Homo sapiens: one gene and its partners. The protein of the gene in region 1 interacts with the protein of each later gene in a pairwise test. Each region holds a gene or a part of one and is shown in the gene's direction. Other genes may lie near its edges. The genes, in order: ATP5F1C, POLA2, MPP1, SERPINA1, PAWR, NDUFB3 and PTN.

What was found.
Region 2: the proteins of ATP5F1C (region 1) and POLA2 interact in a two-hybrid assay, tested with the Homo sapiens proteins (one large-scale study listed by BioGRID and IntAct).
Region 3: the proteins of ATP5F1C (region 1) and MPP1 interact in a two-hybrid assay, tested with the Homo sapiens proteins (one large-scale study listed by BioGRID and IntAct).
Region 4: the proteins of ATP5F1C (region 1) and SERPINA1 interact in a two-hybrid assay, tested with the Homo sapiens proteins (one large-scale study listed by BioGRID and IntAct).
Region 5: the proteins of ATP5F1C (region 1) and PAWR interact in a two-hybrid assay, tested with the Homo sapiens proteins (one large-scale study listed by IntAct).
Region 6: the proteins of ATP5F1C (region 1) and NDUFB3 interact in a two-hybrid assay, tested with the Homo sapiens proteins (one large-scale study listed by BioGRID and IntAct).
Region 7: the proteins of ATP5F1C (region 1) and PTN interact in a two-hybrid assay, tested with the Homo sapiens proteins (one large-scale study listed by BioGRID and IntAct).

Annotation. Positions count from the first base shown.
Region 1 is NC_000010.11:7,801,677-7,806,204, forward strand, and holds part of ATP5F1C (ATP synthase F(1) complex subunit gamma, mitochondrial isoform L (liver) precursor), read left to right. Parts: intron 1-593; coding exon 594-749; intron 750-1,081; coding exon 1,082-1,178; intron 1,179-4,528.
Region 2 is NC_000011.10:65,282,015-65,286,542, forward strand, and holds part of POLA2 (DNA polymerase alpha subunit B), read left to right. Parts: intron 1-464; coding exon 465-507; intron 508-4,528. UniProt on the Homo sapiens protein: Accessory subunit of the DNA polymerase alpha complex (also known as the alpha DNA polymerase-primase complex) which plays an essential role in the initiation of DNA synthesis.
Region 3 is NC_000023.11:154,791,407-154,795,934, reverse strand, and holds part of MPP1 (55 kDa erythrocyte membrane protein), read left to right. Parts: intron 1-3,649; coding exon 3,650-3,793; intron 3,794-4,087; coding exon 4,088-4,166; intron 4,167-4,528. UniProt on the Homo sapiens protein: Essential regulator of neutrophil polarity. Regulates neutrophil polarization by regulating AKT1 phosphorylation through a mechanism that is independent of PIK3CG activity.
Region 4 is NC_000014.9:94,382,103-94,385,602, reverse strand, and holds part of SERPINA1 (alpha-1-antitrypsin precursor), read left to right. Parts: intron 1-2,223; exon of another isoform or gene 2,224-2,361; 5' UTR 2,362-2,365; coding exon 2,366-3,011; intron 3,012-3,500.
Region 5 is NC_000012.12:79,684,058-79,688,585, reverse strand, and holds part of PAWR (PRKC apoptosis WT1 regulator protein), read left to right. Parts: intron 1-4,528. UniProt on the Homo sapiens protein: Pro-apoptotic protein capable of selectively inducing apoptosis in cancer cells, sensitizing the cells to diverse apoptotic stimuli and causing regression of tumors in animal models.
Region 6 is NC_000002.12:201,074,659-201,079,186, forward strand, and holds part of NDUFB3 (NADH dehydrogenase [ubiquinone] 1 beta subcomplex subunit 3), read left to right. Parts: intron 1-4,222; 5' UTR 4,223-4,224; coding exon 4,225-4,364; intron 4,365-4,528. UniProt on the Homo sapiens protein: Accessory subunit of the mitochondrial membrane respiratory chain NADH dehydrogenase (Complex I), that is believed not to be involved in catalysis. Complex I functions in the transfer of electrons from NADH to the respiratory chain.
Region 7 is NC_000007.14:137,333,196-137,337,723, reverse strand, and holds part of PTN (pleiotrophin isoform 1 precursor), read left to right. Parts: intron 1-4,528.

The DNA of each region.
Region 1 (4,528 bases):
CCTATACACATAGCCTGAAGGCAATTTTATGCAATATTTTAAAGAATTTTCTGCATGAAACAAAGTTTCAAATGCACCCCATCACACAAGGTCAGGTGTGGAATTTTCCACTTGTGGCATCACGTCAGTGCTCAAAATGTTTCAGATTTTGGAGCACTTCAGATTTTGGACTTTGGGATTAGGGATGCTCAACCTGTATTACACTAAATTCGTTTCAATTCATTATTATTCTTTTTTACTGGAAAAAGCATTGAGTGCTTGCTGGCTTTGTAACAGGCACATGCTAATGCTGTCCAGAGGGCTTCATAACCACGAGATATAGTGCAGTTATTTCAAATGTTGACCTAATTTTTCTAAAGTTACACATGTGGAGTAGAATATCAAATGGTTTATTTACACATTATATTTTGCTAAAAATATGCTATCATCTGTAGTGTGGAAATAGATGACATTATTAGAACAGATTCATTTACCTTATCTAGCATTAATTTCTGCTCTGTAATTATAAAGGAGTTTTACACTGAAAAGCTGTTTTTGATGAATTACTATTCCTTCCATATAACTTGAAAGAAACTCATCACTTGTTTTAACAGACAGCATGAGTATCTATGACGATATTGATGCTGACGTGCTGCAAAATTACCAAGAATACAATCTGGCCAACATCATCTACTACTCTCTGAAGGAGTCCACCACTAGTGAGCAGAGTGCCAGGATGACAGCCATGGACAATGCCAGCAAGAATGCTTGTAAGTACACAGTATGGACAGTGCCAGCAGGAGTGCTTGTGAGCACACAGTGAATCTCAGCTGAGAGGAGTCCGTGGCCGAGAGTAGCATCAACAACATTAACATGATATTCCTGTACCTGTAAGAAAGTATATCTTGATAGGTAGTTGATTTGCAAGTACTGTGAAAAGGTATCCTATGGAAGATGTAAAAATATCTTCATAACATTATTTGAGAGGCCAATTTTGGTATCCAAAAATTTCTTACTTTTAAATTAAGCAACAGAAGTTAGTTAACAAGTTATTCTACTCTAGTTTCAGATTTTTTATGTAGTGTTTTTGTTTTGTTTGTAGCTGAGATGATTGACAAATTGACATTGACATTCAACCGTACCCGCCAAGCTGTCATCACAAAAGAGTTGATTGAAATTATCTCTGGTGCTGCAGCTCTGTGAGTAATTGTAGATTGTCGCCTTCAGAGAATTTTTTTTCCTCTTGCTGTGTCTGCTTGTTTGGATGCTTAAAAGTTTTTCGTTTTTTTCTTTTGAAGTTGAAACTCATTGCTGAAACTTGCATCCTAACTCTTAGGCTATAAAGATGTGGTAAAAATGGGACCTCTTTGCTTTATTTTTATTGTTTCAGCTGGAAACACTCGGGCTTAGTTTTCGGTTTTCTAAAGGATTAGGAATGGGATGTGGATAATTCAGTATCATTTATGAAATCTTTTTTTGGAATTTAAACAATTGTAAGCCAAGCTTTCTGAGTTACAGGGCTAGTTTCAGATTTGGTTTTACATAAATCTATAAACCATTGCATGTTGGGAAGGTCCAGGAATTTTTTAATCATTATGTTTTTTAATCATTATGTTTTCTATATCAGTACCAAAAGATAGTATAGCCATCCCTCAGTATCTGCAGTGGATTGGTTCCAGTACTCACTCTCACCTCCCCCAGGATACCAAAATCTGAAGATCCTCAAGTCCCTGAAATAAAATAGCACAGTACTACATATAAAAAATGCACATCCTCTCGTATACTTTTAATCATCTCTAGTTATAATGCTATGTAAATTGTTGTTGTATTGGTTTTTGTTTTTATTATTTTATCATTATTTTTGTCTTTTTTCCAAATATTTTACATCGGCTGTTGGTTGAATCCATGGATACTGAGGGCCAACTATATACTGCTTTCCTCAAGAAAATTTCTTAGTTGTTGAAAAACTTTAATGTTTATGAAAAAAAGGTTAAGATAATGGGAATTTTATTCAAAAAGTTATTAAGTTGAATACCCACTATGTGCACAGTACAGTGCTAGACACAGTGTTAAGGATGTGATTCTCTCTTTTAAGGCACTTATATTCTAATAGGATAAGAAACATACAAGTAATTGTGATTAGATAAAACGTGTAGTAAGTTCTTTTTGACTCGTTCCTTCTTACCTCCTGCTAATCAGTTACCATGCTCTTTAAGTTTTACCTTCTAACTATCTCTTGAATCTTCCCCCTTCTTTATGCCCACTTAATGCAGATCCTTGTCATTTCTCTCCTGGGTTCAAAAAGGTAATTATTTGAGTGCCCCTTAAGTGTCAGGCCCTGTGCTAGACACTGAGGATACAGTGGTAACAGTATTTGCCTTCAGAGAGCTCAGTCTTCACAGTAAAGGCAGACACTAAATAAGAAGTCACAGCAGAACAGAGGTTGCTAAACTGTGGCCTGGAGCTAAGAATGGGTTCTGCATTTTTAAAGGGATATAAGAAAAAGGAGAGTGATAGCGTGTGACCCACAGAGTGCAGAATACTTGCTGTGTGGCCCTTCACCGAAAAAATTTGCCTATTCTTGTGACAGTGTTATGAGGAAAATAACAAAATCCATTCTCTGTTATACACTCATTCTGCAGAAACACTCGATGTATGTGATCCTATATTTTCTGGTCACCAGCACTCTTCCCAGTCCAGTCTCTTACCATTACCATTTCTCACGTCCTTGAACCTCAGCCACCTTGATCTACTTCCAGATCTACAGATTCGTCACTCTTTCTCGCGGCCAGGGAGTGGCATGTGCTGCAGCCTGAAAAGCCACTATTTCTTCCCTTGCTCCCTTGATTCTTCATCTGACTGCCTCCTGTGTATCCTTCCTTACTCAGCTGGGGGAATCCTTTCTTCCAGAAAACACTCCTTCCTTCAGTCTGAGTGAGGCAGCCTTCTGCAGCATCCTGTCTTCCATTTAGCTTAGCTCTTACAGCCTTGTATGAGGAATTGGCTTTTTATTTGTCTGTGTGCTCCTCGAGGCTAGGATGGGACCATATCTTATTCACTTTTGTGTCCCCATTGCCTGGTACATACCTCCTTCGTGAATGTTGAATGAATGAATGAAATGCCATATGTATTCAGAACTGGAAGTTCAGAAGAGGGACAAATAACATTTTATTGGGTGTATGAAAATGTGGGTCCATGGTTTTAAGAGTCAGGGAAAAGTTCATCACTATTTAAAGTGTTCCTTAAGTGTTACTTTTCAAGGGCAGAAACTGGGCAGAATGCCAGAGAGACACAACTAGAACTTTTTGAGCCAACAGAGACCTTTGTGTAAGTTGTTAGTTGGATCCATCAGCCTCGCTATCCTAAGCATTCTTCTCTTATTTTACTTTCTAAGCACAGCTGTGTTAGGACTAACCCATTCACAGCCTGGTCACCAATGTTCTATCAGCATCACAGAATACTGTCTCATGGTGTCTAGCTTGATGAACTTGGTTAGGATACTCTCTCTGTTACTCAGCTTTGTCATCTGTAACATGGGGACTAATACAAGGACTAAAACCTTCTATTAGCCATTATCCTTCTTGCCATCTACCCCATGTTAAAGCCAGGCTGATTTGTTCTTGGATCTTAAGTGTGACAAAGCCTGCGGGAAGGAACCACATTCTGAAGGTTTGTGGGCTGTGTGAGATCCAGAGAACCCAAGGGGGTTTTTTTGCTCTTGACAAACGAATGTTAGGTATGACCTATGATGATACAACTTCTGCAAAATTGAGGACCAGCCTATTTCTTCATTAGAAATGCAGGAAACCTGGCCGGGCGCAGGGGCTGACGCCTGTAATCTCAGCACTTTGGGAGGCAGAGGTGGGCGGATCACAAGGTCAGGAGATTGAGACCATCCTGGCTAACTCGGTGAAACCCCGTCTCTACTAAAAATACAAAAAATTAGCTGGGCGTGGTGGTGGGCGCCTGTAGTCCCAGCTACTATGGAGGCTGAGGCAGGAGAATGGCATGAACCTGGGAGGCGGAGCTTGCAGTGAGCCGAGATTGCGCCACTGCACTCCAGCCTGGGCAAAAGAGCAAGACTCCTTCTCAAAAAAAAAAAAAAAAAAAAAAAGAAATGCAGGAAACCTATTTAAAAGTAACAGAAACAGCTGGGTGCATTGGCTCATGCTTGTAATCCCAGCATTTTGGGAGACCGAAGCGAGTGGATTGCTTGAGCCCAGGAGTTCAAGACAAGCCTGAGCAACATAGCAAGACCCCATCTCTACAAAAATGAAAAAATTAGCCAGGCCTGGTGGCATGTGCCTGTTGTCCTAGCTACTCAGGAAATTGAGGCAGGAGGATTGCTTGAGCCCAGGAGTTTTAGGCTGCGGTGAGCTATGATCGTGCCACTGCACAAAACCAAGAATTTAGAAAAAGGAATCCACATAATTGGAAATTGAGTATTAAGTTTTTGCTTCCTAGGAAGGTAGTCTAAATCCTTATACAAAAACTTAGCTATGCAGTGCCAAGGTTGGATTGCTTGTGAATGGGTTTGCATGCTCTGTAA
Region 2 (4,528 bases), on another chromosome or scaffold:
CTGTGGCTGTGTTCCCATAAAACTTTATTTAAATAGTGGGCTGCAGCCAAATTTGGCCCAGAGGCCGAAAGGTTACCTATCCCTGCTCTAGGCAACAATCCTCCAGAGATTTTCGTAGAATGCCAGGAAAAGTAGCAAGAAACCATTCTCTCCCATCCTTGCCTAGAAGTACACTGATACTTTAGGCACCTGTTTTGCTCCCACTTGTTGCTGGGTATTTTATGACAATTGAGTAGTGACCTCCCATTACCTGGGTTTCTTTGCCCTCTGAGCAGTATAGAAAAATGGCAGGTCCCATCAGATCCAGGGAGCAAGACAGAGGCACATCCTTCCCCTGCCCTCTCGCTCCTCCCCACTGTCCTCCCATCACACACCTGCACCACCCCCAACCTGGTGCCCTCCCCTTTCCTTACCAAGGTGATGCCTGGCGCAAGACCTTACTTGAGCTTTTCCCCTGTTTTTAGGGTGTGCCACTTCCATTTTATCAGCCCACTGAAGAGGATGCAGGTGAGTTTCGGTTCAAATATTGTTTTGCCAACAATGAGGATGGTAGACATGAGTCCAGGAGTGCAGTTTCCCAAGCCCAAGAAAGCTGCAGAAGCTGCTGAAGAGCAATGTGACCAAGCAGTGAGGGCGCCACCATCATGAGTTCGTAGGTTTTTTGTCACAAGACCCCTGGTCTGAGCCCAGTGAGCGTTGGTCGTGCTGTCGCCTGAGTTCTGCCTACATGAAGCATGTTGTTTAAAGACTAATGTTTAACAGGTATTTTTGAAGGTTGCCTTGGAAAGGAAAAGATGTACGATTTCAAAAAGAATTTATTTACATGCAGCATGGGCAGATGCGGTGGCTCACACCTGTATTCCCAACACTTTGGGAGGCCAAGGTGGGAGGATCACCTGAGGCCAGGAGTTGGAAACTAGCCTGGGCAACATAGGGAGACCCTGTCTCTACTAAAAATTAAAAAAAATATTAGCTGGGCTTGTGGTGCATGCCTGTAGTCCTAGCTAATCAGAGGCTGAGACAGGAGGATTGCCTAAGCCCAGGAGTTCAAGGTTGCAGTGAGCTATGGTAACACCATTTTACTCCAGCCTGTGTGACAGAGCGAGACTCTGACTCTTAAAAAAAATTAAAATTAATTAATTTTTTGAAAGTATAATGTGGCATCCTGGATTGGATCCTTGAAGAGAACGGGAACATCAGTGGAACAACTAGCAACATCTGAATAAAGCCAGGAATTTACTTTTTTATTTTTCTGGCTCTAACACTCAACCTCGAGAATCCAGGAATTTAGTTAACAGCGATATACCAGCATTAATGCCTTAATTTTGACAAATGTTCATGGTTACCTAACATGTTAAGATTAGGGGCCACTGGTGAAAGACACACAGGAACTCTGTACTATCTTCATAACTTCTCTACAATTCTAAATTTGTTCTAAAGTGAAAACTTAAAAATAACTTCCTTTTTTTTTTTGAGATGGAGTCTCGCTCTGCCCCCCAGGCTGGAGTGCAGTGGCAAGATCTTGGCTCACTGCAAGCTCCGCCTCCCGGGTTCAGGTGATTCTCCTGCCTCAGCCTCCTAAGTAGCTGGGATTACAGGCGTACACCACACCCGGCTAATTTTTGTATTTTTACAAAACCCCATAGTGATGGGGTTTCACCATGTTGGTCAGGCTGGTCTTGAACTCCTGACCTTGTGATCCGCCTGCCTTGGCCTCTCAAAGTGCTGGGATTGCAGGCATGAGCCACCATGCCCGGCCAAAAAGAATTTCTTTAAAACCCTAGTGTTATGTGGTAACTAATCTAGTTGTGGAAAGGCAAAAAGAAAGTTTGACAAACTTTGCTTCTAAATATTTCAACATAATTTCAGCACTTCACAGGGCTGAGGTGGGAAGATCACTTGAGCCCAGGAGTTTGAGACCAGCCTGGGCAATATGGCGAAAACCTGTCTCTACAAAAAAAAAAAAAAAATTAGCTCGGCATGGTGGCATGTGCCTGTGGTCCCAGCTGCTCAGGAGGCTGAGGTGCGGGGATCACTTGAGCCTGGGAAGTCAAGGCTACAGTAAGCCGTGATCATGCCACTGCACTTCAGCATGGGTGAAAGAGTAAGACACTAGATAGATAGATAGATAGATAGATAGATAGATAGATAGATAGATAGAATTTATTTATTTCAAGGTGGCCAGGTGTGATGGCTGACTTCTGTAACCCAGCACTTTGGGAGGCCAAGGTGAGAGAATTGCTTGAGCCCAGTTTAAGTTTAGCCTCCCGGCACATAGTGGGTCTGCATCTCTACAAAAAATAAAAACAAAAAAAATCAGCTTGGTGTGGTTGTGCACACCTGTATAGTCCCCACTACTTGCGAGGCTGAAGTAGGAGGATTGCTTGAGCCCAGGAAGTCAAGGCTGCAGTGAGCCATGATTGTGCCATTGCACTCCAGCCTGGGTGTCAGAGTGAGACCCTGTCTCAAAAAAATATATGTATGTATTTCTGTATTTCAAGGCATTGTTTTTTTTTTCTTTTTTTTTTTTTTAGACAGAGTTTCACTCGTTGCCCAGGTTGTAGTGCAAGGCGCCATCTCGGCTCACCGCAACCTCCACCTCCCGGGTTCAAGCGATTCTCCTGCCTTAGCCTCCCAAGTAGCTGGGATTACAGGCATGCACCTGTAATGCCTGGCTAATTTTTGTATTTTTAGTAGAGATGGGGTTTCTCCATGTTGGTCAGGCTGGTCTCAAACTCCCAACCTCAGGTGATCTGCCCGCCTCGGCCTCCCAAAATGCTGGGATTACAGGCATGAGTCACCACACCCAACCCTCAAGGCATTTTTGTAAGCACAGTGGAGCACTGTTAAGGATTAGCAACCAGATCACTGATACTAGCATGTTGTCAACACCCCATGCATGTAACAGTGGCCAGAGCCATTCTTGGAGATGACCTAGAATCAGGAGTGAAATTTAGGACCTTGTGATATTGCACATTTTATCAGAAAACACAAGTTTGGCCGGGCGTGGTGGCTCATGCTGGCGCAGGAGGATTGCTTGACCACAGGAGTTTGAGAGCAGCCTGGGCAACATGGTGAAACCTCATCTCTACAAAAAGTACAAAAATTAGGCCAGGCGCAGTGGTTCACCCCTGTAATCCCAGCACTTTGGGAGGCCGAGGTGGGCGGATCACACGGTCAGGAGATAGAGACCATTCTGGCCAACAAGCTGAAACCCCATCTCCACTAAAAAATACAAAAATTAGCTTGGCTTGGCAGCGTGTGCCTATAATCCCAGTTACTCAGGAGGCTGAGGCAGGAGAATCGCTTGAACCTGGGAGGTAGAAGTTGCAGTGAGCCGAGATCGCCAATGAACTCCAGCCTGGCGACAGAGCTAGACTCTGTCTCAAAAAAAAAAATTAGCTGGGTGTGGGCATGGTGGCATGTGCCTATAGTCCCAGCAACCTGGAAGGCTAAGGTGGGAGGATCACTCTCCTGAGTCCAGGAGTTCAAGGCTGCCATGAGCCATGATCATACCACTACTGCACTCCAGCCTAGGAGTGAGAGTGAGATCCTATCTCAAAAAAAAAAAAAAAAGAAAAAGAAAAAAAAGAAAATACAAATTTATAGGGGGCAAGGGTGGCATGCTGGTATTAGGTCAACTTCAGGTAATGAAATCAACCTGGCTGAGATACCAGGAGCCTGAGCTGTGTACCAGAGAAGCCTTTGGAAACAGTTTAACAGGTTGTTAATGAACTTTTGTACAAGGAATTAAATGAGGCACTCATGGAGATACAGAATAAGACATGGCCCTCGCCCTCCAGAGACTCACTGCTTACACTGGGGCTCACATCTCCTGTAGGCTTCTCAGAGCCAAACTTAACTTTGTCCCCTACCCCACCACCACATGAAACCTGCTCTTCACCTTGAATGCTCTGTCAGTTCATGGTATTATTACCATGATAGACTGAATCACAGCCCCAGGAATCCCTGGAACCTGTGAATATTTTACCATTTGTGGTAAAGGAGACTTTGCCCGTGTGATTAAGTTAAGGCTGTTGAGATGGGGGATTAGCCTGGATTATCCAGGTGGGTCCACTATAATCACAAGGGTCCTTATAAGAGGAATGGCAAGAGAATCAGAGTCAGAGCTTAGAAATGTTAGGCTGCTGTGATTTGAGGAAGCCTAAAGAAAAATTTTATTTCAAAATAGAGAAATCTTAGGCTTCTGGCTTTGCCGCTGCAGGTGGGGCCATGAACCAGGGAATGCAGGTGGCCTCTGAAAGCTGGAAAAGGCAAGGAAATGGATTCTTCTCTAGAACCTCCAGACAGGAGGAACTCAGCCCTGCCCACACCTTCAGTTTAGGATTTTTGACCCCTGGAACTGTAATATAATAAATTCGTGGGCTTTTTTTTTTCTTTTTTTTTGAGACAGTCTCACTGGAGTGCAGTGGGCATGATCACAGCTCACTGCAGCCTCAACCTCCCAGGCTCAAGCAATCCTCCCACTTCAAGTAACTAGAACTATAGGCTCAGGAGGTACGCACCA
Region 3 (4,528 bases), on another chromosome or scaffold:
TAACACAAGCACATAATACATAATTTAAAAGGTATAACTTGATACACAGTGAAAACAATTTCCTTCTCACCCCATCTTATAGCCACCCAGTTCCTCTCCCTAGAAGCAACCACTGTTTCTTATGTCTCCTTCCAGACATAGTTTATGTATTTTCATTTATTTTATTTTTTGAGACAGGGTCTCACTCTGTCACCCAGGCTAGAGTGCAGTGGTGTAATCACAACTCACTGCAGCCTTGACCTCCCGGGCTCAAGCAATCCTTCTGCCTCAGCTTCCCGAGTAGCTAGGATTACAGGTGCACGCCACCATGCCCGGCTAATTTTTTTATTTTTTGTAGAGACGAGGTTTTACTATGTTGCCTAGGCTGGTCTCGAACCCCTGACCTCAGGTGATCCTCCCACCTCAGCCTCCCAAAGTGCTGGGATTACAGGTGTGAGCCACTGAACCTGGCCAGTTTATGGATTTTTAAGCAAATATGAATATAATCATTCTTTCACTGTTTATGATGAAGCTAGTATACCCTTCATCACATTATTATTATTTTTTGCTTAACAATAAATCTTCAAGATCACCCTCAGAACCTCCTTTTCCTACCTACATGGTGTATCCCGGGTATCATAAGTCAATTTTTTAAATATAAGCCTATCTTAGACAATTTTGTTATAACAGCAATGCCATATGACTTGGTGTCATGTGAGTTTTTTGAAGTTCTAGTTGCTAGAGAAGGCAGTTTCTCTTTCTCAGTACTTCCCTCATTTGAGGTCACCTGATAGCGAATACTACTTCAAACCTCACCATGTTTTTTGTTTGTTTGTTTGTTTGTTTGTTTTTCTGAGACAGGGTCTTCCTCTGTTGCCCAGGTTGGAGTGTAGTGGTGTGATCATGGCTCACTGCTGCCTCCAACTCCTGAGCTCAAGCAATCCCCCTGCCTCAGCCTCCTGAGTAGCTGGGACCACAGGCTTGCACCACCACACTCAGCTAATTTTAAAATTTCTTACAGAGGCAGGAGTTTCACCATGTTGCCCAGGCTGGTCTCAAACTCCTGGGCTTAAGCGATCTCCCCACCTTGGCCTCCCAAAGTGCTGGGATTACAGGTGTTAGCCACTGCACCTGGCCCAAACCTCACCATCTTATCAAAGTTTCTACTTAGAAATCAGAGTCCCTTAGAAATGATGTAAGCCTCTACTCCAGACTTCCTTCTCTCTCATCTTCTAGTCCTTTTCTAGGCCTTGGGCAGGCCAGTGGACACTGCTCAGGCATACCATCTATTCCCATCTAGGGACCCTTCTCCTTCCCCACACAGTGAATGGCACACTCCTCACAGTTCTGCCTATTGGGAAGATCTTCCCTCCCTACTGTCTTTGAGGGTCACCTCTGGGTGTGACTGGAATGCAGCTATCCCCTATTTTCAGCAGACCCTTCCATAAGCCCACTTCAGGCCTATTCCTCCTCCTCGTCCTCCTCCTCCTCCTCCAGGTGGCTATATCATTTTTGATTTAATATTTTATCTGGGGTGGGCAGGGAGCATTTTCAGAGGTTTCCATAGTTTTTCCCCATTGTGATTGCTCTTACCCAGATCAGTAAGATGAGGAAAGAACAGCAAAGCAAACTGAGAAGGAGCATTTTAAGGAGAAGAGAGTGATCACCTGTGAGACTGATCCACAGGTGATCTACCATGGAGTGGTGTAGCAGTAGCCATTCATTGCCATTGATGTAGGGTATCCACTTGGATATGCTTCAGTTTATCCATTCTACTGTTGATGGACTTTTGGGCTATTTTCAGGTTTGGGCTTTTAAGAGTAGTGTTGTTCTGGAAAGGGCACACCACTACTTTCCTGGAATTCCTGCCAAAAATGCAAAATCCCAGTCTAATCTTGAAAAAACATCAGATGATAACCCCAAACTGAGAGACATCTACAAAATAACAGGTGTGTACTCTTCAAGAATGTCAAGGTCATGAAAGAAGAAAAAGAAAGGCTGAGGAAATTTTCCAAATTAAGGAAGAGTAAGGAAATGTGAAATGCATGATTGGATTCTGGTCTTAGATTGGATTCTGGGACCAAAAAGTCCTAGGTTGGATTCTGGACTGGGGAAGAAATATATAGCTATAAAGGACATTCTTGAAAGGGTTGGCAGATGACAATATTGTGTCAATGTTAAATTTTCAGTTTTGAAAATGCTCGTTCCTAACATATAGAGACATCTATGGGTAAAGGAGAATGAAGTCTTCAGATTACTCTCAAATGGTTCAAAAATTAAATTTTATAATATTTTTTAAAGAGTACTGGCTGCTCTTGGAATGGCGCCAAAAAGATGAAAGAATTTTATAGTGACACCCATATAGCCACACCTCCTAGATTCTACAGTTAACATGTTGCTGTGTTTGCTTTATCACATTTCTATCCAAAAACTGCCCATCTATCCACCTTCTTTTTCCTGGTATTTCAAAATAAGTTTCAGATATCAGAGCACTTTACCCCTGAAAGCTTCAGCATGCATATCATTGGCTCAAGTTCAGGATTTGTTTATGGTTCTTTTCATCCTGTTATTAAATTGTAAGAGTTCTTTATATGTTCTGGATACAAATCCTTTGTCAGATGTAAATATTGCAAATGTTTATTCTCAGGCTGTGTCATACCTGTCTAGTTTCTTATGTAAGATGTTTGAATTTGATGAAGTCAGTTGTTTGCTTGTATGATGATTGCTCCGTGTCTCGTCTACTAAATCTATGCTTATCTCAGTGGAGTTTTTTGATGAATAGACTTCTTACTTTTAAAGTGTTTGTCTTTTTAGTTTTCATTTTATACTCGGGACCTTTTATGACATTTATCGTGCAGACCATTTTTCCCCGCTGCACTGCAGTGTCACCTGACTATAAATGTGTGGCTCTGTTTTTGCACTCTCTGTTCCATTACATGGGTCGTTTGTCTTTCTTCTTACCACAGTGCCTTAAATTACTTTAGATTTATAATAAAGAGGCCTTGCTGCCTGGTAGAGTAACTCATTTAGCTTTGCTGTCTTTGAGATCAGGGGAAGAAGTCACAGTGGCAATGTATTATTGTTATCACCGCGGTTCGGGGCCCAGTCCTAAGTGCCTAATTCTACAGGTAGAAGTTCTTTGTAGCCTAAGGGGTGATTCATGAGAAACTGATGCTAACCTGAATTACCTTTATTGCTGTGTGACCGAGAGCATCAGGTTGTTCAAGGAAATACAAAGGAGAAGAGAACATGCCAGAAACCCTTGGAGCCTGAGGTGCCGCAGGATTCAGAATCTTTCTAATTTTGTTATATATTATGTAATACCCCAAGCAGGATCCAGGAGAGCACCATGTAAATCAAGGCACATTAATATTTCTGCAGCAACCTAGATAAACATGTCTATTTTATTTATTTTTAGAGACAGGGTCTCACTCTGTTGCCCTGGGACTGTAGCTGGGACTACAGGTGCACACCACCACACTTGGCTGACATGTCTATTAAGTTGGAGAAATAAAGCTTACAAACAGCTTCATGTCAATTCAAATAAGAATGAGGCCAAACTTATGAAATAAGTTTTCAGAGCCTCTTGAATGTTAGAATTGCAGATTGTGGACTGGCTGTGGGCCTTGCTCCTGATTTCATACGTTGCTTTGTTGTTTTGGCTTGGCAGGCTGTATCGCATCCATTGAATACTGTGACCGAGGACATGTACACCAACGGGTCTCCTGCCCCAGGTAGCCCTGCCCAGGTCAAGGGACAGGAGGTGCGGAAAGTGCGACTCATACAGTTTGAGAAGGTCACAGAAGAGCCCATGGTAATCCCCCGTCATATTGTCGCCCACCAGTTACTCTCTGCCCCATGAGTCACTGGGCCAGAAGAGTCAATGCAAGAGGCTGCTCATGGAGTTAGGGAATTGGCCAACCCCAAAATTGTCTTTTCATTCTTATCTCAAATTCCTCCTCAAAGCAGGCTTCATGCCTGTTCTAGTTGAGGACTATCCTGGGTATAAATGGAAAATATTTTCCTGAGAAATTACCGTAAGTTCTTTCTAAAATAACCTCAGAAAGAGCTTAAAATAAAGCTTATTGTGCCGTCGCCTTTATTTCAGGGAATCACGCTGAAGCTGAATGAAAAACAGTCCTGTACGGTGGCCAGAATTCTTCATGGTGGCATGATCCATAGACAAGGTACTCTGTGGGAGCTCTGGGTGGGGTTTGATTCAGGGATTAATAATTTACTCCCTGTTCAGTGGTGTGGGGCATGAAGCTTATAATCCTCCAAACTGGTAGCATTTTTGTGAGTGTGCCAAGAGACTTTTTGTGGCTTAATAACTGGCTCTGTAGAATCAGTACATGATAAGATCTCTATGTGAATTGCCCAGTGCCACCATCTCCCTATCTGAGCCTTCTTTCACACCTATTTATACCAATATTTTTCTAGTAAGTTAATATTTGAGCAATTGCCACATGCCACCCATTGCATTAGACTTGGAAAGGACAGCAGTACCACTTGGTAGCATTTTGGGGTTTGAGCTAAACAACAAAGAAAC
Region 4 (3,500 bases), on another chromosome or scaffold:
GTAACCCCAGCACTTTGGGAGGCCAAGGCAGGCGGATCAAGAGGTCAGGAGTTCAAGACCTGCCTGGCCAACACGGTGAAACCTCAGCTCTACTAAAAATACAAAAATTAGCCAGGCGTGGTGGCACACGCCTGTAATCCCAGCTATTTGGGAAGCTGAGACAGAAGAATTTCTTGAACCCGGGAGGTGGAGGTTTCAGTGAGCCGAGATCACGCCACTGCACTCCACCCTGGCAGATAAAGCGAGACTCTGTCTCAAAAAAAACCCAAAAACCTATGTTAGTGTACAGAGGGCCCCAGTGAAGTCTTCTCCCAGCCCCACTTTGCACAACTGGGGAGAGTGAGGCCCCAGGACCAGAGGATTCTTGCTAAAGGCCAAGTGGATAGTGATGGCCCTGCCAGGGCTAGAAGCCACAACCTCTGGCCCTGAGGCCACTCAGCATATTTAGTGTCCCCACCCTGCAGAGGCCCAACTCCCTCCTGACCACTGAGCCCTGTAATGATGGGGGAATTTCCATAAGCCATGAAGGACTGCACAAAGTTCAGTTGGGAAGTGAAAGAGAAATTAAAGGGAGATGGAAATATACAGCACTAATTTTAGCACCGTCTTTAGTTCTAACAACACTAGCTAGCTGAAGAAAAATACAAACATGTATTATGTAATGTGTGGTCTGTTCCATTTGGATTACTTAGAGGCACGAGGGCCAGGAGAAAGGTGGTGGAGAGAAACCAGCTTTGCACTTCATTTGTTGCTTTATTGGAAGGAAACTTTTAAAAGTCCAAGGGGGTTGAAGAATCTCAATATTTGTTATTTCCAGCTTTTTTTCTCCAGTTTTTCATTTCCCAAATTCAAGGACACCTTTTTCTTTGTATTTTGTTAAGATGATGGTTTTGGTTTTGTGACTAGTAGTTAACAATGTGGCTGCCGGGCATATTCTCCTCAGCTAGGACCTCAGTTTTCCCATCTGTGAAGACGGCAGGTTCTACCTAGGGGGCTGCAGGCTGGTGGTCCGAAGCCTGGGCATATCTGGAGTAGAAGGATCACTGTGGGGCAGGGCAGGTTCTGTGTTGCTGTGGATGACGTTGACTTTGACCATTGCTCGGCAGAGCCTGCTCTCGCTGGTTCAGCCACAGGCCCCACCACTCCCTATTGTCTCAGCCCCGGGTATGAAACATGTATTCCTCACTGGCCTATCACCTGAAGCCTTTGAATTTGCAACACCTGCCAACCCCTCCCTCAAAAGAGTTGCCCTCTCAGATCCTTTTGATGTAAGGTTTGGTGTTGAGACTTATTTCACTAAATTCTCATACATAAACATCACTTTATGTATGAGGCAAAATGAGGACCAGGGAGATGAATGACTTGTCCTGGCTCATACACCTGGAAAGTGACAGAGTCAGATTAGATCCCAGGTCTATCTGAAGTTAAAAGAGGTGTCTTTTCACTTCCCACCTCCTCCATCTACTTTAAAGCAGCACAAACCCCTGCTTTCAAGGAGAGATGAGCGTCTCTAAAGCCCCTGACAGCAAGAGCCCAGAACTGGGACACCATTAGTGACCCAGACGGCAGGTAAGCTGACTGCAGGAGCATCAGCCTATTCTTGTGTCTGGGACCACAGAGCATTGTGGGGACAGCCCCGTCTCTTGGGAAAAAAACCCTAAGGGCTGAGGATCCTTGTGAGTGTTGGGTGGGAACAGCTCCCAGGAGGTTTAATCACAGCCCCTCCATGCTCTCTAGCTGTTGCCATTGTGCAAGATGCATTTCCCTTCTGTGCAGCAGTTTCCCTGGCCACTAAATAGTGGGATTAGATAGAAGCCCTCCAAGGGCTTCCAGCTTGACATGATTCTTGATTCTGATCTGGCCCGATTCCTGGATAATCGTGGGCAGGCCCATTCCTCTTCTTGTGCCTCATTTTCTTCTTTTGTAAAACAATGGCTGTACCATTTGCATCTTAGGGTCATTGCAGATGTAAGTGTTGCTGTCCAGAGCCTGGGTGCAGGACCTAGATGTAGGATTCTGGTTCTGCTACTTCCTCAGTGACATTGAATAGCTGACCTAATCTCTCTGGCTTTGGTTTCTTCATCTGTAAAAGAAGGATATTAGCATTAGCACCTCACGGGATTGTTACAAGAAAGCAATGAATTAACACATGTGAGCACGGAGAACAGTGCTTGGCATATGGTAAGCACTACGTACATTTTGCTATTCTTCTGATTCTTTCAGTGTTACTGATGTCGGCAAGTACTTGGCACAGGCTGGTTTAATAATCCCTAGGCACTTCCACGTGGTGTCAATCCCTGATCACTGGGAGTCATCATGTGCCTTGACTCGGGGCCTGGCCCCCCCATCTCTGTCTTGCAGGACAATGCCGTCTTCTGTCTCGTGGGGCATCCTCCTGCTGGCAGGCCTGTGCTGCCTGGTCCCTGTCTCCCTGGCTGAGGATCCCCAGGGAGATGCTGCCCAGAAGACAGATACATCCCACCATGATCAGGATCACCCAACCTTCAACAAGATCACCCCCAACCTGGCTGAGTTCGCCTTCAGCCTATACCGCCAGCTGGCACACCAGTCCAACAGCACCAATATCTTCTTCTCCCCAGTGAGCATCGCTACAGCCTTTGCAATGCTCTCCCTGGGGACCAAGGCTGACACTCACGATGAAATCCTGGAGGGCCTGAATTTCAACCTCACGGAGATTCCGGAGGCTCAGATCCATGAAGGCTTCCAGGAACTCCTCCGTACCCTCAACCAGCCAGACAGCCAGCTCCAGCTGACCACCGGCAATGGCCTGTTCCTCAGCGAGGGCCTGAAGCTAGTGGATAAGTTTTTGGAGGATGTTAAAAAGTTGTACCACTCAGAAGCCTTCACTGTCAACTTCGGGGACACCGAAGAGGCCAAGAAACAGATCAACGATTACGTGGAGAAGGGTACTCAAGGGAAAATTGTGGATTTGGTCAAGGAGCTTGACAGAGACACAGTTTTTGCTCTGGTGAATTACATCTTCTTTAAAGGTAAGGTTGCTCAACCAGCCTGAGCTGTTCCCATAGAAACAAGCAAAAATATTCTCAAACCATCAGTTCTTGAACTCTCCTTGGCAATGCATTATGGGCCATAGCAATGCTTTTCAGCGTGGATTCTTCAGTTTTCTACACACAAACACTAAAATGTTTTCCATCATTGAGTAATTTGAGGAAATAATAGATTAAACTGTCAAAACTACTGACAGCTCTGCAGAACTTTTCAGAGCCTTTAATGTCCTTGTGTATACTGTATATGTAGAATATATAATGCTTAGAACTATAGAACAAATTGTAATACACTGCATAAAGGGATAGTTTCATGGAACATACTTTACACGACTCTAGTGTCCCAGAATCAGTATCAGTTTTGCAATCTGAAAGACCTGGGTTCAAATCCTGCCTCTAACACAATTAGCTTTTGACAAAAACAATGCATTCTACCTCTTTGAGGTGCTAATTTCTCATCTTAGCATGGACAAA
Region 5 (4,528 bases), on another chromosome or scaffold:
AAACTGTCCTCTGCGGTTTGCTACTTGCACAAAAGATCTGTTATTCATTAAATTGCTTTAGAAGGAATTCGTAAGAGTGGTAATCAAATTTCTAGGTGTTTTTTTTTTTTTTTTTTTTAGTTAAAAATATGAAGATTAAGGGGAAATTGAAGACAAGGCTTTGGAAAAGCTACATTCCTCAACTTGATTTTTAAAAGTAGCTGATGATCCAAATAAAAGAATTTGTCATTTTCAATCTTTTCCTCATTGTTCATCTGACAGCGGTCTTATTTTGGGAAATATCTTGGCAGATGTTAAACTTCACTTTTTTTCTGGCTGCATGTGCTAAAATTATTTTTCAAGTACTTTTTTTTTTTTTAAACAAGGGTAATGTTTACTGGGGGAAGTAAGTAGAGTGTATCTTGTGAGATCCTAAGAAACATCTTTTGTTAATACCCCTGCTTTGAGTAAGAGAACATAGTGCTGAGAATGTAGATGACTTCCCACTACAATGGAGTCTAATACTCTGGAATGTTTTTCGTTTGGGTGTTGGCAACTCCTAAATTTAATCTTCCCTGAAAACAAACAAACCAAGGGTACCTTTTTTTTTGTCTGTAGAGTTTGAACCTTTTTATTGAATAGGGAATTGAGGACTGCTTTCTTTTAGTGGTAACTATGTCTCTGTCCGTTTCAAGCTGCAGGACCCAACAAAACAGTAATGCTTCACTACAGTATCTAATTAACAGACATACTTCTTGAGCGCCTCCTCCTCATATTTTCTTATTTTTCAAAACAACTTATGTATTTCAGATTATTTTAATAGTGGTAAAATATATGATGCAAAACTTTAAAGCTGAGCCATTTTCATGTGTTTATATTGTTGCTTTTTTAGAATTGTGCCATTTCTCCTGGTAGTTTCAACATTGAGAATACCAGTTGCTGTGGAGTTTCTTGTGTAATATTTAATTTAGCACCCCTGTTTTAAAAAGTCATACATATTTTGCAAATTTTTCGGGTATGAAAATAAGTAAAAAGATGAAAATGACCAATCTCTTTATATTCAAAAGTAGACTTTATTTTATCTAATGTCGAGTAAGACTCTTATTTTCAGACATGATTCCCAACCAAGTCTGTATTAGTAGATTAACATGTAGTTCATATGTAGAGATCTGGTTTTAATGGTGGATAAACATTAAGTTCCTTCAAGGAAGTACTTATGAAACATCTGTGTGATACATTTATTGTGACTTTCATTACCTCACTTTACTAGTTATAGAGTGTATATATAATACTGTTATAAAGGTATCTGACAGCAGCTAAAGATACCAGAATTGACTAGAAGATAGTTATAGGCAAGGAACCAGGTCAAAAACCGAAACTAGCTATTTGGGAGGTAGGAAACTGGGTGGTTACTGCATGTGATGGCTGAAGTCGATCTATCCAGAGCTTCTTTAATGAGATAAAATTTACTAAGAGTTTTAAGAAAAATATCCTTTTTTCTAAATTTTTACATTTTCTATTTTTTGGTAGTAATTCACCTGAACTGGGTAATTTGGACGTGGCATACTTCTTGCCAGTAATTTTTGTGTGTGTTTATCAGATCAGTCAAATGTGTATTACATACCTGTTAAAGACACTATCCTTAAGCAGTGGAGAAAATAAGAACACGGCAGTGTATATTCTCAAGGAGCAAGGCTATAATCTAGGAAGAAGGATAAGGCATAATTACATGAAAAAATTTAAGTACTGAGTTAACAGTTTAAAAGCCATCTTAATGAAGCATGTAACTATTTATTGGAAATAGTGTGTGTTTAAAAGGGGGAGATGATTGGGCTGGGAGAAGCTATTGAGGATGAGAATCTTGACCTGAGTCTTAAACTTTTCAGTACTTGTATATTTTTACATATGTTCTCACATATGTACATGTATACATAATTGTTTGTATAGTATATTAAGTACCGACATGCAGTGGTTCTTAACTTGAGCAGCACATTGATAGCATGTTAGGATCTTTAAAAAAATGTTTGCTCATGCTAATTCAATTCCGTGCCCTCTTTGTCCCTTCACCCCACCCTGTAATATTGAATGGGTCTGGGATGGATCCCAGGCATTAATATTTTTATAAGTTCCCCATTTGATTCAAATGTGAGTCAGTGATAACAACTGTTGGACTGCAGTCTGGGTATAGAAATGAATAGGACATAAGCCTTGCCCACGAGGTGCTCTCAGGTAATATAAGGAAATGTGAAAAGTAGAGTAGTAAGTATAGCTTAGTGCCTGAGCAGGGTACCTAACCCAGGGAGGAGGAGTGATAGTTGAAGAAAGCTTCCTAGACAGTTACATACTTGTTTCCAGGGGGTTTGTGAAGTTACTGCCATTGAGTAGGGTTGTGTGAATGGGTTAATGGAGATGGGTGCCATAGAAAATGTAATCTTTGAATAGGTAGAGGTGGCACTGAAGTTTTGGTTTAAGTATAAAAGTTAACATATACAGTATTTAAAACTTCTGTTTTAAAATAGTGGTTGGCTAAAGTGGTTTAGCTTTAGTGGTTGGCTAAAGTGCTTTATGTACTGAAGTTCACAGCAATCTCATGTGGTAGTTACACTGTTTATCACTATTTCCAGAGGAGAAAATGAAGACTTAGAGCTTAAATGATTCAAGATCACATAGAAAGTAACTGATAGAGCAATATTTTAAACATTTTTGTGTATTTTGTGTGTATGTATATATCTAGGGAAAGGGGAGTTTTTAAAAATTAACCTACTTTTCATTATTCAGCATATTTCCCTAGATTTTTACATAACTTTTTATTAAAGATTATCTTAAGTAATTTAAACATCTGAATGAGGAAAACAGTAAAGGTATGGAATTGAATAGAATTTCAGGTCAAATTTGTGGACTCAGAGATTGCCTCTGACCCTCTAACCTATAGAGTGGCAAAATTTTGAACACCAGGCTCTCGGCAAAACGTAAATTTATTTTTGGCTAGTGGTCAGAAAATGTGAATCTTTGATTTTACCTAAGTGATATATTGTTTTTCTATCAAGATGGGGTCATGACACCTACTCCATAGTTTGAACTCGTGTTGGTGAAAGGGAAGATAAAGGAGCATTTAACATATAGAAAGCACTTTTAAGTGAACACAGGTTAGGTCATAATTATTTAGTATGTTTATTGAACATTATATATAGGACAAGTTCCACTTAGTAAACTTTATAAATCCAGGTGGATTAAGAAATGCCTTTTGTTATTCCCATTATGCTCCAGACTGTCTACCTTTCTGTGTGATGAGTCAGGAGAGAAACTAATAATGACTCAGAGTTGGAGAAAATTTGATTCGTGAATGGGGTAGATATAGTGTAAACACTGAGACTGTTTAGTGTAAAACCTGGGCTATTAGCCCAGCTTTCCTAAATGTTTGAGCTCACTGGTAAAGTAAATTGAAATTTTAATATTATCAGGATTTGTACTGAGTTGTCTGAGCTGGGATGTCATTTCTCATAAAAATAATAATTACATAATTAAAGTAGATGACATTTATGGTGTGCTTATTAAGTGCCAGGCACTGTTCTAAGCACTTGACATACATTAGTGCATTTAATTCTCACCACAGCCCTATGGGAAAATGGGGAAGAGAAGGTATGTTACTTGCTTCAGGTCATACATGTAGTGAGAAGTAGATTAGAGATAGTTTGCACTCACAGTCTTGTGCGTAATAAACCATCTTACTACACTTCAGTGTATTACATACTGTATACCTAGTTTAAGAAATACAAAGAATATTTTAGTGTTAAATTGTTAGTATATGACTATGGAATTTAAAAATAGCCCTATTTATAGAACATAGATGAAGTGAGACTTTAATGGAAAATTTTGAGAACAAATGAATATATAAACACTGGCATTAAAATTCTTATTTAAAATCATTATCAAGCTAGTGGCCTGTTTATACTATTTTCTTTGTTTTTTTCTTTCTTTCTTTTTTTTTTGAGGTGGAGTCTTGCTCTGTTGCCCAGGCTGGAGTACAGTGGCATGTGGTGTGATCTCAGCTCACTGCAGCCTCCACCTCCCGGGTTCAAGCAATTCTCCTGCGTCAGTCTCCCAAGTAGCTGGGACTGCAGGTGTGCACCACCATGCCTGGCTAATTTTTGTATTTTTAGTAGAGATGGTGTTTCGCCATGTTGGCCAGGCTGCTCTCAAACTTCCAGCCTCAAGTGATCTACCCGCCTCAGCCTCCCAAAGTGCTTGGATTACAGGTGGGAGCTACCGTACCAAGCCTATCTATGCTATTTATTATTTCTGCATTTTTTTTTTAGCACCTATGATGTGTGCCAGAAAATAATTATGCCATTTAATAGCAAGGTTGATATAATGTTTTATAAGTATAAAATTATTGGCAAATATTAGGGTTTGACATTTTCTCTGTGCTTTTTTTCCTTTTTTAAAAATTGAGATATAATTCACATACAATAAAATTTACCCTTTTAAAGTGTACAGTTCAGTGGTTTTTTAGTATTCACACGGTGTGCTCTTAAGTGCTTTTATATTT
Region 6 (4,528 bases), on another chromosome or scaffold:
GTTGGCCAGGCTGGTCTCAACTCCTGGCCTCAAGTGATCCACCTGCCTTGGCCTCCCAAATTGCTGGGATTACAGGCGTGTGCCACTGCGCCCAGCCATGTTCAGCCTTTCTAGGTCTTGCCAGTTTTTCAGAATGGTTGTGCTTAGTTACATTCTCACCACCTAAGTATGAAAGTAGAAGGCACATCACAATGTGTTTTCCTCAGCTCTCACGATCTTGCAAGGTAGGTTTTATCTTCATGTTATATGAAGAAACTGAAGTTCAGGGAAATTAAGTGATTTGCCTTGGATTTTACTTTTACTAGTGCAAAGTAGGAGAATTTCAAGCTCTTACTTTACAGGTCACGATATCATTGTTTGATTTATGGCTATTTGGAAATAGAAATAAGTTTAAAAAGAAAAATGGGCCAGGTGCCATGGCTCACGCCTGTAGTCCCAATATTTTAGGAGGCCAAGGAGGGAGGAATGCTTGAGGCCAGGAGTTCAACAGCAGCCTGGGCAACATAGGAAGATCCTGTCTGAAAAAAAAAAAAAAAAGAAAAAGAAAAAAGAAAATGAAAGGTTTCCTAGAGAAAGTGTTTTCAACTTTCTGCTCTTTTTGAAAAGTCATTTATATGTTATATTTAGCCGGGCACCGTGGCTCATGCCTGTAATCCCAGCACTTTGGGAGACCCAGGTGGGCGGATCACAAGGTCAGGAGATCGAGACCATCCTAGCTAACACGGTGAAACCCCATCTCTACTACAAAATGCAAAAAATTAGCCAGGCGTGGTGGGGGGTTCCTGTAGTCCCAGCTACTCGGGAGGCTGAGGCAGGAGAATTGCTTGAACCTGGGAGTCACAGGTTGCAGTGAGCCAAGATTGCGCCACTGTACTACAGCCTGGGCGACAGAGCGAGACTCTGTCTCAAAAAAAAAAAAAAAAAAAAAAGGTATATTTAGTAAATTCCTATGAAAAGGATACTTCTGAAATAATTAGGTAGAAGAGAAAATACATTGAATGTATTTAAATAAACTTGTATAGGAGAAATGAGGGTATGTACGCTTTCATGTTTTCTTTCAAAGATTTATCTTTCAAATTACTTGTTTAAGCACAGTAGTATTGTAATTTTGAAATAGTCTTTATACCATGGTAATGTTTCAAGTTTTATTTTCAAAAACTATTCTATCAAAATTCTTGACCCTTTGTTTTATACTCTCTTCCAAATACACTGATACTCAGGTTGATATTCTAGAATTGACATTTGCCAAAATAAGGGTTTGTCTTGTTTTAAGTGTTTTTAAAATGAAGCCTTATTTTAAAAAAGATTTTTTGAAAACATGGTATGCAGAAGCCAAGACATTATCATTCTAAATAAACACTTGTAATGGTCTTCGTTTGTAATAAATGTATTCAGTCTCAAAAGTCAGTCTGAAGTCTGACACCATAATTTTTTTCCTTCATTTTATTGAATCTACCAAGTAATAATGGGTTAAATGTTTCATTCAGAGTTGTGTTGTAATTTTAACTTGTGTTTGAGAGTATCGGTTTTCATTTTCATTTTCATTTAAATGTGAAAATCCTCCTGGGTGTGGCTGTAATCCCACTGTAATCCCAGCATTTTGGGAGGCCTATGCCAGAGGATCAAGGATCACTTGAGGCCAGGAGTTTGAGACCAGCCTGCACAACATAGGGAGGGTCCATCGCTATAAAACATTTAAAAACTAGCCAGGCGTTGTGCACACTCCAGTCCTAGCTACTCAGGAGGCTGAGGCAGGACAATCACTTGAGCCCAGGAGTTTGAGGCTGCAGTGAGCTATGATCCAGAGCAAGACCCTCTATCTTTAAATATATATATATATATATATATATATATAATTAAATGTGAAAATCATCAACATAATGTTTTTTAGTATCTTAACATGTTTACAAATAATAAGTGTTGGTTTTTCACAGTTAGTATGTACAATTTTTTTCTCATATCTTGGAACTACTTATTTTTTGAGAGAGTCTCACTCTGTCGCCCAGGCTGGAGTGCAGTGGCACCATCTTGGCTCACTGTAACCTCTGCCTTCTGGGTTCAAGCGATTCTCATCCCTCAGCCTCCCAATAATGTGTCTTTAATATACACTTTTTAATAATTACCTCTCTCTTCTGAGATGCAATGTAAGAATTCCTACCAGGCCAGGCACAGTGGCTCACGCCTGTAATCCCAGCACTTTGGGAGGCGGAGGCGGGCAGATCACCTGAGGTCAGGAGTTCGAGACCAGCCTGACCAACATGGGGAAACTCCATCTCTACTAAAAATGCAAAATTAGCCGGGCATGGTGGCGCATGCCTGTAATCCCAGCCACTCAGGAGGCTGAGGCAGGAGAATCGCTTGAACCCAGGAGGCGGAGGTTGCAGTGAGCCGAGATTGCACACCATTGCACTCCAGCCTGGGCAAAAAGCAAAACTCCATCTCAAAAACAAAAGAAAAGAAAAGAAATCCTACCTTATTGGGCCTGTTCATAGTTATAAATATGGACATAATGGTAATATTTACTTGATTTTACTTCCGGAAAAGCAGTGATTATAGAATTGCTACTGCTTGCCAAGTAATTAGAAAAATAAAAATGTAAAAAAAAATAAAAGGATTGCTACTGCCAACCTTACACAAATTATAGTATAGTGTTACTAAGCCATACCCCTTAATTTGAATTAGCAATTTAAATGAGGACTGAGCTGGTTTATTTTTATATTATATATTAAAATAACACTAGTAAAACCAAAGTATTTATATAACCATTGAGGACATGTTTTAATTAAGGAAGCAAATTTATTGATTAAAAAGGAGTCCTAAGGTATCTGTTGGCCCAGTTCAGGGATCGGCAAACTGCAGCCTGTGGACCAAATCCAGCCCAGTGCCTGTTTTTGTAAGGTCCATGAGCTAAGAATGGTTTTTACAAATGAACATTTGTAATGACTTTGATGCTAAGGATCACTAACTTTGAGCTCCAGTTAAGTAGAATGTTACCCCCAAAAGGGGAGTTCCATTTTTTTCGTCAGTAGACCTGTATTACAAAAAAATTTGTAGTCAGTTACTTACTACATTTTGAATTTTATCAATAAGGTATTTGCGGTAGTGTGTTTTCTCTTCCTATAAATGTACCTACATAATTGCCTCAATTTTACCTCTTTTACCCACAAAGCCTAAAATATTTACGATCTGCCTCTTTAAAGAAACCTTTCATGTAATCATATGTATTTAAAAGCATTGCATTTTAAAAGAATCATCTAAAGAAAATTTTTAAAACAGGATGTATAACCTTTTTATTATACATATTTATGCATTATGAAAGGATTCAAAAGGAAAACAATATTGCTTAGAAGTTAGGAGCAGGGGGCCGGGTGCGGTGGCTCACACTTGTAATCCCAGCACTTTGGGAGGCTGAGGTGGGTGGATCACGAGGTCAGGAGATTCAGACCATCCTGGCTAACATGGTGAAACCCCGTCTCCACTAAAATTACAAAAAATTAGCCGGGCGTGGTGGCGGGCACCTGTAGTCCCAGCTACTCGCCAGGCTGAGGCAGGAGAATGGCGTGAACCCGGGAGGCGGAGCTTGCAGTGAGCCAAGATTGCACCACTGCACTCCAGCCTGAGCGACAGAGCGAGACGCCGTCTCAAAAAATAAGAAGAAGAAGAAGTTAGGAGCAGGGTTCTAAAACCAAACTGCAAGGTTCTAATCCCAGCTGTACCATTACTATTTTTGTTACCTTTGGAAAGTTACTTAATTGCTTGGAGTCTCATTGTCCTCATCTGTAAAATGGGGATACTCATTATTTAAGTTCAAAGAGTTGTTTTAGAGGTAATGGAGTTAATACACATAAAGCATTTTAGCATATGTTTACTATTTATAAAGAGTTGTTTTAGAGGTATTGGAGTTAATACACATAAAGCATTTTAGCAAATGTTTACTATTATTATAATGAAGAAAAGAACCAGATAGTAAATGGTTATCTCTGAGTGATGAGATTGCCAATTATTTTTCTTTTTTATATTTTGTGTATGTGTATTTCCTAACTGTGAACATGGTTGTAGAATAAGACACTTTTATAAAATCCTTTAACTGGAATTTTCAAGTATTTATATTGGCTTTTTTTTTTAATATTAAATGCTTTACCTTAAAACATAAACAATAAATTTGGGTATTTGATATCTACAATTTGCATATTTCTCACTTGTGTTAATCTTTTCCTTACAGACATGGCCCATGAACATGGACATGAGCATGGACATCATAAAATGGAACTTCCAGATTATAGACAATGGAAGATAGAAGGGACACCATTAGAAACTATCCAGAAGAAGCTGGCTGCAAAAGGGCTAAGGGATCCATGGGGCCGGTAAGATGAATTAAGTAATTTAGATAGAATGTATCCTAGAGAATCAAGTGTCTATGTTGCTTTTCAATGTATTCTCCTTAGAGAATCATGAAAAATGGCTTTTTACTTTAAAGGGTTTTTTTTGGTTTTTGTTTTGTTTTTGAGACGGTGTCTTGCTGTGTTGC
Region 7 (4,528 bases), on another chromosome or scaffold:
TCCCTTCATTACAAATGTCATATAGGCTTGCTGGTTCTCTACAGTGTCTTCCTAATCATATTTCACCTTGATAATTTTAAACTTTTCATAGTTGCCGATTCAAGACTACCTCCAGAATGGAGAAAACCTTACTTACCTCTTCTTTAACAAACCATATTATTCAAAGTGACAAAGCTAGTAATTTGAAGCATTATTTTCATTATAACTTCTATGTAGCTATAAGGCCTGTTTTTAAAAATGTTTCACATTTATTTTTTCATCATATTTTTGTAACTCTACTCAGGTAGATTGAGTGGGATTTTTAAAAAATTGATACAGAAATGCAGGCTTAGAGAAGTTAAGGGGGCCATATTCAATGACATACAGATATGAAAACAAAAGTCTTAAAATTCCTAGTTTGAGTTTATTCCTCTGTAATATAATGCCATCTCTTTCTTAGGCTAATAAATAGATTTTATCTCCCATTTGTCTCTCATGTCAAACCCCAAATCCAATGTATGTACAGTTAGAGGTCAAATAACCTACAGCAGCAGTTCCCTGTCTTCAATGTTTATCAGATTAACTAGCGTCATGTGTAGGTTCCAGCTGCCTGGAGCCCATCTTCAGCAGTTCTGATTTAAGAGGTGGAATCAAGGACCCTGGACATACGACAGGGCATGTGGATACGGATGAAACATTAGAAACAGTAGCCTTAATCGCTCAATATTTGAGCTCCAAGGTCCAAAATACTGAGGTATAAACCACTGCACTTCTTAGTAGCTCTGTGACCGTGAGCAAATATTGTGGTCTTTCTTACTTCAGTGTTTTCATCTCTAACATGGGAGCACATACCTACCTTCCAGGATTGACGTCTGAGTAGTAATTGAGAAAATCAATGTGAAGTACTGAACATAGAGTCTGATTGCTGGGAGTGTTTGAGCAGGATGGTGAAAATGATGATCATGGTGAAGCAGCACCAGATGCAAGTCCTCACTTCTTCCCCCTCCTGAATTGCTTTTCTTTCTCATGCCCACTTGGCATCTGCAACAAACATACAAGCAAAATCCTAGGTGGAATTCCATGCTTCTTGAAAGGCCTCGCCCCTCCACATGCTCATACCATTTTCTTCCTTCTCTCTAAATGCAGATTGAAAATCCTTTCTTCTGGAAGAAAACATACGGAGCATGTGATCATGCTCAAGGCCTGGGGGTTGGGCAGGCAAAGTCTCCGATGCAGACTCTTTGACCTTATCCCTTCCCATAAGGTATAGGAGAGCATTTTGCATACAGAAGACTCCCAATCCAAGAGACAGGCACTTTATTGCTGACCTTAGTGATGCTCATAACCACATTCTCTCTGACCCCTGCTGATAGAGGCTTCAGTCCAGGGAAGGAGTTAAGGTTTGGAGTCAGGAACCAGCATCTCACCACAGTCCGCCTGTTGTTTGGTATGGGCTGCTGGATGTGCCACTGAATCTTCTGAAATCTTAGGTTTTTTAGCTCTAAGTGGGAAATGATGATGATGTTACTTGTTTTGCCAACCTCATAGGTTGGTGGTAAATGTCAATGGTCACGACGCAACATCTGTAAGCTCTAAACTGTTATACTGAACATGAACTGAACTTAATAAAGTCAGTGGGGCAAGTTCTGCCTTTCTGGTTTCCCAATCCTGCTATTGTCATTGTCATTTTCTCAGGACACACAGAGATTGCCTAAGTTGCTTGAAGGTAAGTTTGACTCACAAAGTGAGGAGGAGGTAAGATGTGCGACAGGAATGAAGAAAAAGAAATGAGTCATACTAAAAAAAAAAAAAAAAAGCGAGAAGACATCTTAAATGAGGCTGAACTGAAACAGGCATGCTTTCTTTTACCTCAGATTATGTTATATTTCCTTCTGAAGTGTCTTAAAAGCTACATGTCACATTTTTTAATTGGTTATTCTCACTAAATATAAGCCTTAGTAATTGGCTAACAGCAGTTCATTTACATGATAGCTGGATAACTGTGCTTCTCAAACTTTCATGTTCATACCAGTCACCCAGGGTCTTTGCCAAAATTCAGTAGGTCTCCAATGAAATCTCAGAGTCTGCTTTTCTGCCAAGCTCCCAGGTGACTGCAGTACTGCTAGCTTGGCGACCTCTCTTTGAGTAGCAAGCCACAACAGTTTAATTCAACAAACTTGAGGGAACAGGAGACAAATCAGAATGCTCCAGTCATGATGTCCATAGCTTAATAAAAATGATGAGGATCATTGTCAATATGTTATATGCAAAAGCTTCTAAAACTTACATCTTTGTGACCAAATAATATTTACAATGTATGATTATTTATGAAAGAAAATTGCAGACACCACCTGATTTGCTATTGACTTCACTGAAGTTCCCTTAAGTGTAAAAAGCCCCTGGCCAGATGTTGCACTTGGGCCTCCTTACCAGTGCTTCTGCTGGGGTCTTTCTCGGAGAGGGTGTAAGTGATCCAAATGTTGCCTTCTTCATTTGCTTTAAAAGCTAATGAAAAGTGTTTAGAAAACTTCATTCTTTTTTTTTTATTATTATTATACTTTAAGTTTTAGGGTACATGTGCACAATGTGCAGGTTAGTTGCATATGTATACATGTGCCATGCTGGTGTGCTGCACCCATCAACTCGTCATTTAGCATTAGGTATATCTCCTAATGCCATCCCTCCCCCCTCCCCCCACCCCACAACAGTCCCCAGAGTGTGATGTTCCCCTTCCTGTGTCCATGTGTTCCCATTGTTCAATTCTCACCTATGAGTGAGAACATGTAGTGTTTGGTTTTTTGTCCTTGCGATAGTTTACTGAGAATGATGATTTCCAATTTCATCCATGTCCCTACAAAGGACATGAACTCATCATTTTTTATGGCTGCATAGTATTCCATGGTATATATTTGCCACATTTTCTTAATCCAGTCTATCATTGTTGGACATTTGGATTGGTTCCAAGTCTTTGCTATTGTGAATAGTGCCGCGATAAACATACATGTGCATGTGTCTTTATAGCAGCATGATTTATAGTCCTTTGGGTATATACCCAGTAATGGGATGGCTGGGTCAAATGGTATTTCTAGTTCTAGATCCCTGAGGAATCGCCACACTGACTTCCACAATGGTTGAACTAGTTTACAGTCCCATCAACAGTGTAAAAGTGTTCCTATTTCTCCACATCCTCTCCAGCACCTGTTGTTTCCTGACTTTTTAATGATTGCCATTCTAACTGGTGTGAGATGGTATCTCATTGTGGTTTTGATTTGCATTTCTCTGATGGCCAGTGATGGTGAGCATTTTTTCATGTGTTTTTTGGCTGCATAAATGTCTTCTTTTGAGAAGTGTCTGTTCATGTCCTTCGCCCACTTTTTGATGGGGTTGTTTGTTATTTTCTTGTAAATTTGTTTGAGTTCATTGTAGATTCTGGATATTAGCCCTTTGTCAGATGAGTAGGTTGTGAAAATTTTCTCCCATTTTGTGGGTTGCCTGTTCACTCTGATGGTAGTTTCTTTTGCTGTGCAGAAGCTCTTTAGTTTAATTAGATCCCATTTGTCAATTTTGTCTTTTGTTGCCATTGCTTTTGGTGTTTTAGACATGAAGTCCTTGCCCATGCCTATGTCCTGAATGGTATTGCCTAAGTTTTCTTCTAGGGTTTTTATGGTTTTAGGTCTAGCGTTTAAGTCTTTAATCCGTCTTGAATTAATTTTTGTATGAGGTGTAAGGAAGGGATCCAGTTTCAGCTTTCTACATATGGCTAGCCAGTTTTCCCAGCACCATTTATTAAATAGGGAATCCTTTCCCCATTGCTTGTTTTTCTCAGGTTTGTCAAAGATCAGATAGTTATAGATATGTGGTGTTATTTCTGAGGGCTCTGTTCTGTTCCGTTGATCTATATCTCTGTTTTGGTACCAGTACCATGCTGTTTTGGTTACTGTAGGCTTGTAGTATAGTTTGAAGTCAGGTAGCGTGATGCCTCCAGCTTTGTTCTTTTGGCTTAGAATTGACTTGGCGATGCAGGCTCTTTTTTGGTTCCATATGAACTTTAAAGTAGTTTTTTCCAATTCTGTGAAGAAAGTCATTCTTAATATGAAAAAGATATATGTAATATATTTACTTAGTGTTAAGAGTCTTCCCTTCTTTCACATTTTAACGTCTATAACTGCATTAGACTCTTTCCTTCCATACCATAATGGAACTAGACCAGGAATCATCCATCTTTGTGACTTCCTTGAAGACGGTGGGGCTGCCCAGAGAAACAGCCAGGGCTTTTTGCTTCAGAGTCCAGATTTAATTAATAAGGAACATATTGTGGTAACAGTCTTAGGTAACACAGAAAATCTTCACTCAGGCTAGAACAAATAGAAGCTATCTTAGTCTGTTTTGTGTTGCTATAAAGGAATACCTGAGGCTGGGTTCTGTGTAAAGAAAAAAGTTTATTTGGCTCATGATTCTGCTGGCTGAAAGTTTCCAGATTGGGCATCTAGTGAAGGCCTCAGATGGCATCCACTCATGGTGGAAGGTGAAAGGGAGCAGGCATCACACA